Regions from separate parts of the Homo sapiens genome. Here region 1 is linked to region 2. Evidence: fine-mapped QTL for protein levels in blood plasma. Region 2 holds a variant in brackets. A gene starts in the other region. All regions are shown on their forward strands.

What was found. A credible set is the group of variants that fine-mapping cannot tell apart. PIP is the posterior inclusion probability: the model's chance that the variant is causal. Protein levels are from antibody-based Olink assays in UK Biobank. Linkage for the fine-mapping came from a reference panel and not from the study's own genotypes, which makes the PIPs less certain.
Region 1: MEPE starts here. The variant in region 2 is the best candidate, but not a certain one, in a credible set for the plasma level of the MEPE protein (UK Biobank, PIP 0.75).

The regions. Positions count from the first base shown.
Region 1 is chr4:87,831,342-87,834,268 of GRCh38, forward strand. It overlaps MEPE (matrix extracellular phosphoglycoprotein), which reads left to right and starts at 1,628. Exons shown (of 4, transcript NM_020203.6): 1 at 1,628-1,673.
Region 2 is chr13:22,450,801-22,453,727 of GRCh38, forward strand. It overlaps LOC107984599 (a long non-coding RNA gene), which reads left to right. Exons shown (of 3, transcript XR_001749779.2): 2 at 2,660-2,927. Among named protein-coding and RNA genes, the nearest start is that of LINC00540, 240 kb to the left of the region's middle. The variant T/G (reference allele first, on the strand shown) is at 1,512.

The DNA.
Region 1 (2,927 bases), not on the chromosome of region 2:
TTCTGCATTTTTTCCAATATGAAGAAAAAATCAACTTTACTCTTCCAGTTGCTCAGGTCAAAACCTTGGTGTCATCCTGATTCTTGATTGTTTTCTCACAGGCCACATCTGGTACCTCAGCAAATCCTATTACCATTTTTCCCCAAACTTCTTCAGAATATGACCACGTCTCATCATCCCTTCTGCCGCACTCAGGTTCAAGCCTCCATCATCTCTGGCTGGGATTATTACAAGAGCTTCCTAGCCATTCTCTCTGCCTTTTTCCTACTTCAGTCACTCCTCAATCATGCCTGTGCTTAAAACCTCCAAGGACTTTTCTTCTCACTCATAGCAATGTCAAAAGCATTGCAATGACCTACAGGTCCTATACCATCTGCCATCTAATACCCTTCTGACCTCATTTGTTGCTATTCCCCTTGCTCAGGCCTCCAACCAAAGTGGCCTCTTCTCTGTTCCTGGAACAAGTCACAAGGCTTTTATTTCTGGGGCACTATTTTTCTTATTTCTTCTTCCTGGAATGGTCTTCCCATAGACAGTCATATGGCTGCAGGCTTATCTGAGTCTGTTCATGCTGCTACTACAGAATACCACAGACTGGGTAATTTATAAAAAACAGAAATTTATTTCACACAGTTCTGGAGGCTGGGAATTCCGCAATGAAGAGGCCAGCATGTTCATTGCCTGACGAGGGCTGTCTATCTCTTCTTCCAATTTGGCACCTTGCTACTGCATCTCCAGAGGGGACAAATGCTGTGTCTTCACACTGCAGACAAGCAGAAGGGCAAAAAGGGACTAGCTAGTTTCTTCTTGCCCTTTTATAAGGTCATTAATCCCATTCATACTGGGGTCTGCCTTCATGACTTAATCACCTTCTAAAGAGCCCATCTCTCAATACTGTCACCTTGGGTTTAAGTTCTAACATGGGAATTTTGGAGGGACACGTACATTGAAACCATAACAAGGTCTTTACTCAAAAGTTGCCTTCTCATTGAGGCCTTCCCAGGACTTCCTATCTAAAATTTCAACCCAGTGTCCCCACCCCCAATGCTTGTTACTCCCCAACAATACTTTTTCTCCTTAGACTTAGTATATGTCACTATCTAATCTATTTAACTCATTTATCTTGTTTATTATCTGTCTCCCTTATTGGATTCTAAGCTCCAGGAAGACAGGGATTTTTTTCTGTCTTGTTTTGTTCACTGCAGTTTCGCCAATGCCTGTCACACAGTAGGCACCTAAAACATTTTTGTTAAATGTTGCTGAATTTCACTTAGATAAAATTGACATCATAAACTTTCTACATAAAAGGATAGCAAAAATGTTTTCCATTTCTAAACTTGTTAGGTATTCAGTCAGTCCTAATTAGCAGTTCTGAAATCAATTTTGATTATCTGACAACATGATGTCCAAACTGAGGTATTTATATTTTCTGTTTATCCCACTTTCTGGAACATTTGATAGTAGCTTTCTACCACAAACACATTTTTAGATTAAAATTACTTCACCCCCTATGGTTATCTGTGGGCGCTTGTAACAAATTGTTTGCTAGCGCTGAGTGAGCCAGTGCTGATTGGCCATTGGGAACTCTAACAAACTTTAAATTTCAGCAAAATGCCCAGAGACTTCTAATCCTGCAACAAGAAGCCAGGTATTCTGAAGGTGAAAGATACCAGGTAATTTGGCTTTCATGTTCTTGACAGCAAATAGCTTTATATCATAGTTGTTTACGTTTTTAAGATGCTTGCCACCCAAGTATGGTTTTATTACTTTTGAAAATCTTCTCTACTGAGCAAAACTGTGTAATATTTGGTGCTTTGTTTTATAAAATAGGAAATGCGTTACCATGCTCTAGAAATCATCAACTAAAATTGATGATTTGATAGCAACTTTCTCTTTTTTTTTGTTATTAGCATTATCAAGATCCACAGTAACTCAGACTTCAGTTTTCTTCTATCCCTTCACTTAACAAACTGCAATCAGGAAAATCTGATCTTATTCATACTTTGAAACCTCATCTGTGTTGATATTTCTACTGATGAGCATTAACTCATTTCATAAGTTACTTACGTTGTCCTGATCTATAAAATGCTTGGAAGGGTAAACTATAGTTAGAATTTAGATCCTTCTAATTGCATTAATTTAGAAAAACATAGCCTAGGATTTTAGAATATATTTAATAGTTACAATCATTTCTCCAAATACCAGCTTTTCCTTGAGGTGTTTAAAGATTGCAAGAATATTTAGATTATTTTTTCCCATAAAAACAAGTTTTTCTTCAAGAAATCTCAGAGTGGCATAAATTTATTGTTTTCACAATATAATAATAAGATCAATAGTCCAAAGACATGTTGACTTTTTTCCAATCTAATGGCTACTTAAGTGAGCTCACTAGTTCCTGTTGGTATATTTACCAAAATATAAACAAATACCTTTATTTGTAACTAAATGTTAGTATTTTGAACATCATTTTGTTGAGCCCAATATAAAATATGATTTGCCTTTAAGTCAACTGTACATGGATTTTTCTGTAATAAGATAAAAGAATAGAAAGTTATTTAAGGTGGCAGAGAGTCTTGATGAAGAAAACTGGGTCTAGAGCCACATTGCCTGGATACTAATCCCAGTTCTGCCCCTTAATATTTGTGAATTCTAAAGCAAGTTATTTGATCTTTTTGTGTCTATTTCCTAATCTATACAACAGGCATAGTAACGCCGCCTAACTTGTAGGGTTGTTGTGAGGCTCAAATAATTGAATGCATGCAAAATTCTTAGACCCAGTGCTTGGCTCATTTTAGTATTCAATAAATGTTAGCCATTAATGTCAGTGTTGCAAAAATTAGTTCACTCTCCAGCCCATGGATGGCTACTAATTCAGACACATTGCTAATGAACATGAGACACAGATTAGGGCACCAGCCCGGAGGCAG
Region 2 (2,927 bases):
TTCACCACATTCAATGTAATTATTAATGTAAATTCCTCCAGATAATATCTTCATTGACAGACAGCATCCCTTCATTTTTGTGGGCCTCGCAGATGATTTACACAAGAGAATTTGATATGTTTTTATTTATTTTTTCCTCCAGAAAAAGAATCCTAAAAAAGATTCTTGTGAAAGCACTAGACACAAAGATGTTGACATGTTGTACCTCTAAGCAACATAATTTATGTTTGGGGGAAACGCCCAGTGTTGGGTTCTGACCATCAATATTTCTGAAAAAAAAATGTAGACTTTACAACAAAACAGTTTACTTTTTTAGTATAGATTATCAAATAAAAAGGATGAGTTGAGCAATTATGCGGCCTCTAGCAACTTATATCAGAAATAGAAATAACCCAGATTCAAAAATAACTTACAGGCCCATCAGTCAATCAAATAAGGGTGCTGCTGAAAAAAGACCTAAATATCTCAGTCACAACAAAGACAACTATTTTCAGAGAGGGCACTGTAGACAAAAACACTGTTTGCAGCTGCAACCCAGCCCTAAGGAGGGCTGCAGACTGGGTTGGGAGAGAGGCCGGTAATGAGCAAAACGAACTCTGTAGCCTAGCTCTCCAGTGAGAAATGCAGGCCAATCAGACCATTTTTAGCCTGCCACAATTGTCCAGGGAGCCTCAGGGCACAAAGGTTGCACAACTGCACCCTTGAATAAACACATATTTGGATTAGTGTCATAAGAGCATGCACGATTGGCTTTTCTCCAAAGCCCCACATTTTGACTGCTGGGACAGGGAATAAAGCAATGTATTATACGGTTAACCAGTGGGCCCAGAGGAAAGAGAAAGAATCCATCCAAGCGTCTCAGAGCACAAGCCATAAAGCTGCCTGCTGGAACTGCAGGCATCCACAAAGAGCCCATCACTCCTTCATCTGCCTAAGAAAACTTTCAATGCCTAGTGCTAAGAAGCAGAAAGAGCCACACTGGCTAGGAGGGGGCTAGTGATAGAATTTGAGGAAGATGAATGAACCGCATGTTAAGCTGCTTCACTGTGGATCCCAGTTTAAAAGCCCTGGTAAATAATTTGCCATCCACTGTTACCTGGAATAGGATGAAAGGCACTGTGTGAGTCGATCCATTACACTACTTAAGATAACTTTGAAAACATGGGAAAACAAGTGATTCCATTGCCTTTGAAAATAAAATAATCTTGCAAAACTACTTTGGTTCTTAAATAAAATATAAATTGGATGTTGGCATTTGCAATATGAACCAAGGAATTATGATGGGAAAAGTTAACGTGACTGCATGCATCATCAGTCATGAGAGAATAGGAACAGCTTTGGAAGACAGCATGGGGAGGATGAGAAGCCAGTGCTTTCCCATCATCAGAGCCCTCAGGCTCTGAAAGAGTGGCCCTGGGAGCAATCTGGAGAAAGGTGGCACTGGCATGGCAATGTCATCTGTTTTTCATATGCCCCTAAGTGAGCTCCAAGGCTGGAAAATCATAATTTGG[T/G]ATCTTCTCCAGGCCTTCTAAAACCATGGTGCATAAATTTCTGAGGGTATTTATAAGTGACAGACATACTTCCAAGTACCATTAACTAGAGTACTCTATTCATGACATATCCTACTTGGTTTAGTTATGATAACTCAGTCAGCAATTCATTTACTTATGCACTCATTTATTCACCTAATGTCTATTGATTATTTAGAATGCACCAGGCACTTGATCCAGCTGTCCAGAATACAAGATATACTCCTGAAGTCTGACTTTCATTCATTAACAACCACATGGATGAAGAAAGCATAAAAAAAGAAACCATTAAAAGATAGCTGGATTATAACCTAGCTCCCATTTGCACAGAGAGCTGTGGAAGTCAGCAGGTAACAGTTAGCTTTGGGACAAAATTCATAAGATGAATCATTCTTAGGACACGTCACTTATGCAAAGGTTCAATCTTAAATATTTCAAGTCATGAAACTTCTGAGGACCTCTACAGTTGCTTTACAAAGCTATATGTGGGTTCTGTTTAGTAGAAATATTTCTCAGTTACTAGTTTATTGGCTCATGTACTTTGTACCTCATCCCAGGCCATTCTCCTCAGCCTGGAGGAAATTTGGTAGTCATTAAGGACATACAATGTAATAAAGTGTATATTGGTGGCAATATGTTTCCTTTCTCTGTCAGCTGAGAGAGCCCAGAAGCAATAACACCCCAGTAGCAATTAGCACACCTCCTGCCCAGATCATGGCTTCTAATACTATTCTCCAACAAAGGAAGCCCAAGCCCCTTGCAGAAATAAGTGATTCTAGGGCTGAGGCAGAAAAAGGAGGCTGAGCCTGGGGCATCTTGTAGTGTCAGTAAGTAAGACAGCATTTAAAACAAACAAAGCACCCCAAAAACCCACCTGACGACGATGGGGGTTATGTCCAAGGGACACAAGAGCCAATTGAAGGAGCCCAGATTGCCAAATACACAGCAATTTGAGCAACCAAAAACTATCACAGGATTGGATCATAACCCAGTGCTTAGGACCAATATCCATGTGTCCATATTGTTATCAATTAATGGTTGAATAAATAAATAAATGAAGAAGAAGAGATGCAAGCCCTGTGCAGAATCATTCCATTTAATGTATAATTTACATTCTGTTCTCCCTCCAGGAAGTGGAGGATCACATCTCACCCTGCAAGTGCGAGCTATGCAGAGTGCTGTTCTGCTGAGGAATGCGTATGGAAAGGTGAGGAAAGCAACCACACAGCGGATAAAGTTGAGAAACACTACCTCAGCCCTGTGGCCAAGGTCAGCATCAACAGCGACACATTATGTTGGTGGTATATACTCACATGATGTGGTCATGTGATGTGGTGATGAGAAGAGCATTTCCTCCTCAAAGCCCATAACCCCATTCTAATAATGAGAAAACTATCA